2 linked regions of the Homo sapiens genome follow. The protein of the gene in region 1 interacts with the protein of each later gene in a pairwise test. Each region holds a gene or a part of one and is shown on either strand. Other genes may lie near its edges.

Region 1 (5,251 bases):
ATCCACCCGCCTTGGCCTCCCAAATTGCTGGGATCACAGGCGTGAGCCACCGCGCCTGGCCTGTCAAGTGTTTCTTATCCTCTCCTGGACTGCAGACCTCTTTGGAATCCTACTGACTGCTCCTTTCACAATCCCCCAAAGCATATTCACCTCAAAGACTTTGCAGACAGTTATATGAGATCATGGTTGGTCCTGAACCTCGTCCTTAGAACCCTTTTCAGGTCAAGAAGTTATGATTTAGACCAGTTACCTCATTTTATACATAAGGAAACCGAGGCACAGCGAGGATAAGCAGTTTATTCAGGGTTTCACAGATAATCTGTGACAGAGCTGGGTGTTAGTCCTAGGTAGCAATTAACTGTAGAGTCAGAAATGCATTTGAATCCTGGCTCCCCCTCCTATCTCTTACCAACTCTGCAATTTAGGCAAGATACATAATCTTGTGCCTCAGTTTCCTCATCTGCAAAATGGAGATAACAATAGTGCCTACTTTGTGGGGAGTGCTGTGATTATAGGACAAATATGTGAGGAATTTAGAACCAATATCTTAATAAATAAATTGTAGCCCTTTTGTTTTGTTTTGTTTACAATCGTGAACCAGAGACAGATGTAGCTCTTATAGGTTCTATGTATTATTTTAAGAGCAGAGATACAAGTTGATTTTTTAGCCTGTACTTCTGGCTTAAGTGCAAGTTCCAACTGCAAGAACAAAGAACTGCCACTACCTAGCATTTTTTTTTTTTTTTGTAAATCAAGTAGAACTTATGGTACTGAAATATATGTGGTGATAACACCAATGTCTTAGCTTTTGTGGTTATTATCTGGGAATTTGCAGCTGCTCTTTATGAACTCACACATCTCTTTCCAAAGAGTGTATTGGTTAGCTTTTGCTGTGTAACAATGTGCTGTATTCATACCCTGAAATGTAGTGGCTTAAAACAATGGTCATTTACAGCCAAGTGTGATGGCTCACACCTGTAATCCCAGCACTTTGGGAAGCTGAGGCAGGCGGATCGTCTAATGTCGGGAGTTTGAGACCAGCCTGGCCAACATGGTGAAACCCTGTCTCTACTAAAAATACAAAAATTAGCTGGGCATGATGGTGGGTGCCTGTAATCCCAGCTACTTGGGAGGCTGAGGCAAGAGAATCACTTGAACCCAGGAGGTGGAGGTTGCAGTGAGCCAAGGTTGCACCATTGTACTCCAGCCTGGGCAACAAGAGCAAAACTCTGTCCCAAACAAACAAACAAACACCGATCATTTATTCACTCTTGTTTTGCTTGGCAATTTGGCTGGTTGCTTGGTAATTTGGGCTGAGTTCAGCTGGGTGCCTCTTCTGCTGGGTTTTTGAGCTTACTCATGTGGCCACAGCCAGCTGGAAGATTGGCTGGAGCTGGATGGTCTCTGGGATGGCCTCACTCACATGAATGGCTATTGGCCACTCATGTAGGGTGCCTTGGTTCTCCTCCATGGGCCTTCTCTAGCAGGCTAGCTTGGACTCATTCCCATGGTATTTGGAGAGCTGCCAGGAAAAGCAAGAGAGGGCAGGCCAACCTCAATGTTCAACCATTTTTCAAGCCTCTGCTTGTGTCATGTTTGCTAATGTCCTGTTAGCAAGGCACATGGTCAAGCCCTGATTCAGAAGACAGAGGAGGAGGCCCCACCTATTGATGGGAAGAGCTCCCTAATATTGTGGCTGTTTTCCCCCAGTATTCCACATGGAAGTTTAAATAAACAAATAAGGAGGAAATTATTAGTTCTAGAAGAAAGAATGAAAGAGACAGACAGACTTGGTGGCTCACGCCTGTAATCCCAGCACTTTGGGAGGCCGAGGCAGGTGGATCACGAGGTCAGAAGATTGAGACCATCCTATCTAACACAGTGAAACCCCATCTCTACTAAAAATACAAAAAATTAGCTGGGCGTGGTGGTGTGCACCTGCAGTCCCAGCTACTTGGGAGGCTGAGGCAGGAGAATGGCATGGACCCAGGAGGCAGAGCTTGCAGTGAGCCGAGATCACGCCACTGCACTCCAGCCCGGGCTGTGGAGCGAGACTCGGTCTCAAAAAAAAAAAAAAAAAAAAAGAGACAGAGGAGGGGAGATGGGAGGTTTGCTGTTTGCTGGTGAGTGGCTTGGCATGGAGTCTCTGTTGTCAGTTTAAAACTTCAGGTTGTGACCCTTAGGAGGTGTTTTCACTTCTCACAGTCCCTGGAGACCATCACCTCCAGGCCAGCCTGCCACCTGCCTCTGACTTCCACAGCTCTGAGACCCCCAGGGCCAATAGCCCTCCCTCCTCACTGGAAAGCTGCACTTAACAGGAGCTTGTGCCAGTGACTCAAAATAGAAATGTTTTGTGGGAGATGTTGACTGGTGTCACTGCGGGGTTTCACGTGACGGCGCTGCATCTGCTGTCCCAGCCTACTGTCTCTGTGGGATGTTTGTTTCCTAATTTGTGGTGGGTTCTCTTCCTTGCCCTTTTGTGTGCCCTCATTGCCCCCGCCCTGATTTCCCATCTCTCCATGTTATCTCCAGACTGTTGTGGGCTAGCCTGGGAACTGCCCCACCCTTCACTGCACTGTACTTCGGGGAACGTGCTGTCCAGGAATGGAGAGGATGGTCACAGCTGCACCTCTCTCCCTCACTCAGGGGACATTTCCTAAGGAAGGGCCTTATTGCAAGGTGGGCCCATGGCTGCCTTGCTCACTGCCATATCCCTGCGCTGAGAACAGTGCCTGGCCTGTCAGTAAAGACTTGTCCAGTGAATGAACATCCACAGGCAGGGCCAGGCCTGGTCTGAGAATTTGCACCTTGGAGGGTGCAGCTCGCAGGCCATCACAAGGGCTCTTCTGTAGTGCAGTGCAATCCCTGAGATCAGGAGTCGGCTGCTTCCGGCCTCCACAGCTTCCACGGGGCCAGCTGCCCTCCCTCCTCACTGTAAAGCTACACTTGACCCTGCAATAGAGGCTTGTGCCAGTGACCCCAGACAAAACTGTTGTGTGGGGGATGCTGACTGGTGTCACTGTGGGGCTTCATGCGAGGGTGCCGGTGTCTGACACTAAGTTGGTCTGTGTTGAGGGGGGATGTGTGTACTCAGGGCTGGAGCGGATGGGGGGACAGTTTCTTACCCCACAAATGCACCACCTTTGAGGGGCTCAATTCCCATCATAGACATGGAAGATTTATATATTTATATTGACAAAATTCCAGCAGAAGGCAATCGAGGGTCTCATTCTAGGAAAGGTCCATCTATTATGGAACTGGTCAGTCTCGTGATGAGAAAGTGACTTGTTTTGATTTGCACAGGGGTGCCCTGTAAGCTTGTCATGGAGCTGCGCCTACCTGTGTGGGTCTGTGTGGAAAAGGCTTTCTCTCCCCAGGAGAATGGTGCTAGGTCTACCTGTTGAAGGCTCTGGGTCTGTTGTAGAAGGCCAAGTGCCCCCCATGGTTGGCTGACTGTATGGCCGAGTGTACCCCCAATGAGTGCCTGTGGATGACTATCTCTCTGTGGATGGCAAGTGTCTGGCCGTGGATGGCCAACTGTTCAGCCATGGGGGACCAGGTGTTCCCCAGTGGATGGGTGTCCCCTCCTCCGTGGCTGGGTGTCCACCGTGGGGGGTCAGGTATTCCCCGTGAATGGCCATCTGTTGGCTCTTGGAGAACAGTGCATTTTCCTGGGAACACAGCCATGGCCCCTCCACCGCCCTCTGCCACTTGGCCCATCATCAGCAGATCTGGAGGTGATGGGGGCCTGGCCTGGCTTCCCCAGTCCCTGCAGCTTCTCTGCAAGGCTCTGAGGTGTGGAGCCCATAGGGTGTGTTGCGGGGGAACCGGGGCACAGCAGGAGGCCCCCAGGTGGCTCTAGGGGTTACATCCCCTCCCTTCCCCTGCCAGGCTGAGGCCGCGGAAGGAGCAGGGCACATACGCCCTGTCCCTCATCTATGGGAAGACGGTGTACCACTACCTCATCAGCCAAGACAAGGCGGGCAAGTACTGCATTCCCGAGGGCACCAAGTTTGACACGCTCTGGCAGGTAGGCTGCCCGTGCAACTTGTTCTGGGAGATGCCGTGCTCAGATGGGGTGCCGGGCTCTGGGGAGGAGAGGAGCCTCTCTGCTAGCTGCCTGCTCCCTGCAGCTGGTGGAGTATCTGAAGCTGAAGGCGGACGGGCTCATCTACTGCCTGAAGGAGGCCTGCCCCAACAGCAGTGCCAGCAACGCCTCAGGTGACGGCAGCAGGCGGGCGGGCGGTGGGCGGGGGCGGCAGGAGACCTGGCCCCCAGCCCTCACTGTCCCTTCTGCTCCCCCAGGGGCTGCTGCTCCCACACTCCCAGCCCACCCATCCACGTTGACTCATGTGAGTTGGGGGCACCTGGAGTGTGGCCTTGGGGATGGAGCTGGGGAGTGGCTGTGGGGGAGGCTGGGATGGAGGCTGGGGTGCCTGTGGAGCGGAAGAAGCTCTCTCTCCACTGTCTCTGGGAGTCCTCAGTGGATATAGGTCTCATGAGAGGGGCTGGACGTCCCCAGCTCAGGCCTTGCTGACCCTGTGGCCTTTAGCCTCAGAGACGAATCGACACCCTCAACTCAGATGGATACACCCCTGAGCCAGGTGAGCGGGCAGAGGTGGGGACGCGGGTTGGGGCTCATGCTGAGCCGAGATCAGGGTCGCTGTCAGGGCTGTGGGGTTTCACGGGGGGCGCTGTGGGCCGGGCCAGGCTGTGGCAGTTGGCTTGGTTAACACCTGTGCACACATGTGCCCACACCCATCACACCTGCCTGTGCACATGTACGTCCCAGTGTGTACTGACGTGCAGGGAGCACACTTGGCCTTGCCTGAGGCTCCCCAGACACACGTTTGTTGAGTACCTACTATGTGTCAGTCACGTTCCGAGGTCACTGTGTGTATGAGCCACCGAACCCTCCTGACATGCCTTATGAAGTGGCTATGGTGATTAACCTCACTTTACAGATGAGAGAGGGAGGGGTCTGTCTATGGGGATGTGAGGCAGTGGTAGAGGCGGGATGTGAACCCACGATGGGCCCCAGAGCTCACATTCCTAAAATGGTCTGCTGCGGGTGCTCCTGTTTCTCATGGGTGGGCCCAGACCTGAACATGTGTATGCACAGAGAAGACACATAGTTACATGTGCACCTAGAGGCTCGCTTTTGGAGGCCTCGTAAATGTGGCTGTGTGCTGCATACGCAGACAGGGACGGGCCCGGCCATAGGCGTACACGTACGAATGCACACACATGC
Region 2 (5,251 bases), about 44 Mb from region 1:
AAGAAATGTTCAGTTCTGTAACGGACTTAAGATTTGGGATAGAGAAAGGCAACTAAAAGTTATCAGTGCAACCTCACTGAAGGTCAACTAAAGTAATTAGGGCTCTTCTGTTTAAAAAGACAAAACTTAACGGGGTACACAAGAAAATCCTATGAAATCATGAAAGTTATACATAAAGTGGGCCCCAGATACTCAGATTAACCAAAACCCAAATATTCAAACTAAAATGTATAAGTTTAAGAGGCCGGATGGGGTGGCTCACACCTATAATCCCATCACTTTTGGAGGCTGGAGGCAGACAGATCACTTGAGGCCAGGAGTTCGAGACCAGGCTGGTGAAACCCTATCTCTACTAAAACGTGTAAGCTTAAACTTGAAACAAATTATAGTGAACTACTAATTTTACATGGCAAATGTTAAGAGATAGTAAAGGCTGAAAAGCTTAGTAAATAATTTCTTGATAACTACTCAAATTAAATAGAGATTCATAATAGTGAATTCAAGAAGGCCAATACAATTTGAGGTATGCCTGCAACCTCTTCTGTGTCATTAAACACAATAGCATCTATCTTCATAACTTATTCCATTATTGGATGACCAGATATTACTCAATATGGCTGTTCTTACACACAGCTTTATTCTTAGTGTTTTAAAACTGTAAGAGTGTTATAGACAAAGTTACTGGCCAGACACTAACAAGGCAGCAGTAATTCTTCACTTAGTCTATTTCACAGAATTATGACAGATTAGAAAAATAATTAATTTGGGGGCGTTTAAAAACTTAATTATTTAGACTCACATCCAAAAATAATATAAAGCCAGGCATCGTGGCTCATGCCTGACATCCCAGCATTTTGGGAGGCCGAGGCAAGGGAACTGCTTGAGCCCAGGAGTTCAAGACCAGCCTGGGCAACATGGAGAAACCCCATCTCTACTAAAAATAAAAACATTAGCTGGGAGTGGTGGTGTACACCTGTAGACCCAGCTACTCTGGAGGCTGAGGTGGGAGGATCACCTGAGCCTGGGATGCAGAAGTTGCAATGAGTCAAGATGGTGCCACTGCACTCCAGCCCGGGCCACAGAGTGAGACCCTGTCTCAAAAAAAAAAAATTTTTTTTAATGCTATCCACCAAATACATTAAAAACACAATAATATCTATAAAACTAAAGTTTAATTTTTAGGCTTATATCTTATAAATTTGAAACGGTAAATGACCTGAAGCAGTCACTGCCTTACTTGATAAAGCCCCATTTTTAATTCTTGAATTGTTTTGAAGACCAAAAATATCAGCAAATTTCTGCGTCTACTTAAATTGTACGTATTCCCTAAGATTGCTACACTAAAAATATAATCCAGATCCAAAGAAGGAAGGAAAACAATGTGATATTATCACCTCATTTCTGCTTCAGCTTGACTGAAACATCATAGTTTTTTTCCTATTTGTGTTCCAAGATAGCAATTTAGCACTAACAGAGATACTAAGTTTCATCGTGAAAGAAAGTCACTTCAAAACACATCTCCATACAGCAAAAAAGAATAAAAAATAAAAACATAGCAAATATACATACTCCTTTTGGAAAGCCATGCACACAGGAGAACTGAATCCAAAAACAAGGCACGCCTGGGCGTCTGGGCTGTAGCCATTCCGGAGTAATATTTCTAGGCAATCTTCATGTCCCCCAAACACTGCTGAGTAAACAGGGCTTACTTTGTTTAGCCCAGTGTCACAGGCCCGGTTAGTAAGTGGTATTAACAAGTCCAAGATTCTATAAATACACAAATTCAGGAGAATTTAGTGTTTGTATATGTGCATAAATGTAGGCAACATTTCTATAGCACAATTTTTTTCAGAATTACCAACTGATTCATTTAAAGAAATATTTCTGTCTAGGGTGTACCTTCTACCAACAACATTAAACTATTACATGCTATATATTTACTCCAGAATGTTACACTTATTATTGCTTAATAAAAAGGTCTTTAAATACATTTGAAACAAAATTAATGTTCCTATATGTAAACAGAAAAGGTGCTCTTTTAATTTTATTACCTTACTAGCACCACCTTAACCCCCAAAATTCAAATTTTATGTTAGATATTTTAGGGTTTAATAAATTATTTAAAACATCATTCTACTAAGTATAAACTGGCATCAAGAAAATGCACTATTTTCCTTCTTAAAGTACCAACTAGTTTTTCTTTTCCAATTAGTAAAAATTTTTAAAGATGATAACTGGCATGAAATTAAGACTAATGTTTTCATCAGGAAGAAATTATAATTTGTGCTAAAATATTCTATTATCTGAAAAAAAAGTGAGCTCATTAAATATGGAGGCAGATTTATAAAGAAGCTGGCTCCTAGGTAGAGAAAGTTCTAAGAAAATAATTAAAACAAAAGTTCTTAGGTTATTTGTAAACTTACCTCTAGCAGTCAACTGGAAAGAAAAAAGGACTATTCTACCCTTCTAAAATTAAAAATAAAACTGTATAGTTAAAGCCAGGAAATTCCTTCTTTCTGGGAAAAGACAGACAGGGCTACTCTGAAGTATTTTCATAGTATTACATTTCTCTTTGTGACTTTTCCTCATGTAATGTATGTCTAAGATAACATTTAAGTAGAACTTACACTCACAAAAGGGGTTACCTTTGAAGTAGGCTATAAAGAAAATCATCAGTGACAATGAGAATTCTCAAAATTGAGAACAAATGCCCAGGAGAGTTTTGGTACCATTTAAAGTTCAGAGTACAATATCTAACACTTATGTTTAAATAAATGATCAAGAATTGGGGAAAATATCAAATTTTTAAATCTAAGTATTTTGTTAAAATAGTCTAATGTCTCTTAACTTTAATAAATGTGTTTAATTTTTTTAAGTAGGTGGGAAAAATTATACTCTCCCACAAGACATAAACATGCTTACAAATATCATTAATGAAATAGTAAAGTACTGTGTCACCTAGTGGCATAATGACCAAATTGCAGAATCTGTTTTCCTACTATGTAAACAAACTAAATTAAGTAATGAATATTTTACTATTACTTTTTAAATTAAATAATACTAATAGCAGCTATAAAAAGTGCTATTATAGAATTATGGCTCTAAAGATTCTAAACATGTATTTCTAAAAATTATTGACTGCCAATTTATGATAGGTAGCCATATTCTCACATATATTTCTAAAAATCATTGACTGCCAATTTATGATAGGTAGCCATATTCTCACAGGTATAACCAAGTTACTAGCTTCTAAGATTCCTGGAACCCCCATTTACTCTCTCTCCAATTTGAGGTTAGATCAAGAAAAGTTCAGTCAAAGGGTTTAAGACAGGGAGGACTACTTAGCACACACTCCAACAGGCATCACAAACTCAAAAGCTTTCTGGGGTCAGAGAGGTAACATGGATGGCCTCATCAGATTGATGCTTAAAGATGCCTGGGATAAAACTAGGGAGGAGGAGGCGGCGGATACAGCCATAACTAGAGAAATCAATGGGAAGAGTCAACACCCCGAGAAAGTCCCTGAGCCTACCCAGTCTGTAGCAATTCTGCCTCACAATATGAAAGTGCAGGAATAGTAGGAGCAAAAGACAGCATGAAGGACAGATTAGGGGTAGATCTGTTCACCCAGCAGATTGGTAGGGAAGAGAATATCAAAGACTTTGCCTAGAGGTGAAGGGTCTAGCCCAGATTTATTCTTTATTAGCTTTTGATTAAGAGACCATGTTTATTTTCTGTTTTTAACACTTACTTTGTATGGCCCATTTGTGCAGCTGCATGAATAGGTAACTGCCAACTGTCCTCATTACAGTAAAGATCAGGATCTGCCCCACTGGAGAGCAAAAGCTCCACACATTTTGTGTGTCCCTCTTGAGCAGCAATGAACAAGGGTGTAGCTTTGTCCAAGGCTTGACAATTGACATTTGCACCTAAGGGTACAAAATAAAACATTTAACAGATAACCCTAATACTTAAAAAAATCAACACAAATTTCAAAGGAACTACCATAAAAGGGTTTCGTAGCACGGTAAGCTTTTCCCTCTTCACTGAATGTTGGATGTTGTTATATAAACATATTTACTTTGCTAACTTCTTGGTAATCATTTAAATTGTCTTCGCTAAACTGACAGGGTAGCTCATGCCTGGAATCCCAGCAATTTAGGAAGCTGTGGCCAGAGGATTGCTTGAGGCCACGTGTTTGAGACCAGCCTGGGCAACATAGTGAGACCCTGTCTCTATCAAAAATAAAAAGGTCTTGCCTCTACGTCAGCAAGAAAACAAGTGATTCATATCTTAGAATTCATTTTTAAGCTAAAACAAAAATCCTATTCAATGAAGGATACATTTCATTCCAATCCCTCCTCCAACAAGCATTCTGGGGCCCAATAAGTAAACATTTAAAAAGAAAAATGCAAACTATCAAACATGGATAATATTTCTGATAACTGCTGAAAAAGATAAAATCCAAATTATGCCACTAATTGATTCAGGCTAAGATTTATGAAAAATTATCAGTAGATATGACATATATGGGAGCCACGCCTTAAAACTAATATTGACTATACTCTCTATTACATCTCTTTCTTCATAACCACTGCATGATAAATAATGCCTACAATCAGAGAAAAAGGGTCTCTTTCAACAGGTTTCTGAGTTGATATTTAAAATCATAAATGTGAAAGGGAAAAACAATAATATTATAGTGAAAGAAAGAAAAAGAAAAAAATCCCACCTGCATGAAAATAATTACAAAAATTAGAAGTGTGAACATCTCCAGATGAAAAGGAACTACCCCAAGAATTTTGGATTTGTGAAAAATCTAAATATAGTGACACCACTGAAGGATCACAGTCGTGTTCCCGCAATGGTTCCTGACCCAAATGGAAACTCAGAAATGACAGATAAAGAATTCAAAGCAAGGATTGCAAGGAAGCTCAACAAGATCCAGACAAGGTTGAAAATAAACACAAAGAAACTTCTAAAGCAATTCAGGAAATGAAGGCATCTTAAGATAAACATCTTAAAAAGGAATCAATCAGAGCTTCTGGAATTGAAAAACTCACTTAAGGAATTTCAAAATATAACTGCAAGTTTTATTAATAGACTAGGCCAAGCAGAAGGAAGAATTTTGGAGCTTGAAGATCAGTCTTTCAAACTAACCCAGTCAGATAAAAATAAAAATAAAAAATTTTTAATGAAAAAGGCTTTGAGAAATATTTGATAATGTAAAGCAACCAAATCTATGAATTAT

The links. Proteins that work in one complex are often made in the same cells at the same time.
Region 2: the proteins of ZAP70 (region 1) and ASB3 interact in a two-hybrid assay, tested with the Homo sapiens proteins (one large-scale study listed by BioGRID).

The regions. Positions count from the first base shown.
Region 1 is NC_000002.12:97,728,992-97,734,242, forward strand, and holds part of ZAP70 (tyrosine-protein kinase ZAP-70), read left to right. Parts: intron 1-3,891; coding exon 3,892-4,030; intron 4,031-4,133; coding exon 4,134-4,221; intron 4,222-4,305; coding exon 4,306-4,352; exon of another isoform or gene 4,353-4,552; coding exon 4,553-4,604; exon of another isoform or gene 4,605-5,251. UniProt on the Homo sapiens protein: Tyrosine kinase that plays an essential role in regulation of the adaptive immune response. Regulates motility, adhesion and cytokine expression of mature T-cells, as well as thymocyte development.
Region 2 is NC_000002.12:53,712,815-53,718,065, forward strand, and holds part of ASB3 (ankyrin repeat and SOCS box protein 3), read right to left. Parts: intron 3,930-5,251; coding exon 3,752-3,929; intron 1,768-3,751; coding exon 1,570-1,767; intron 1-1,569. Other genes in the region: GPR75-ASB3 protein, read right to left, coding at 1,570-1,767, 3,752-3,929. UniProt on the Homo sapiens protein: Probable substrate-recognition component of a SCF-like ECS (Elongin-Cullin-SOCS-box protein) E3 ubiquitin-protein ligase complex which mediates the ubiquitination and subsequent proteasomal degradation of target proteins. Recognizes TNFRSF1B.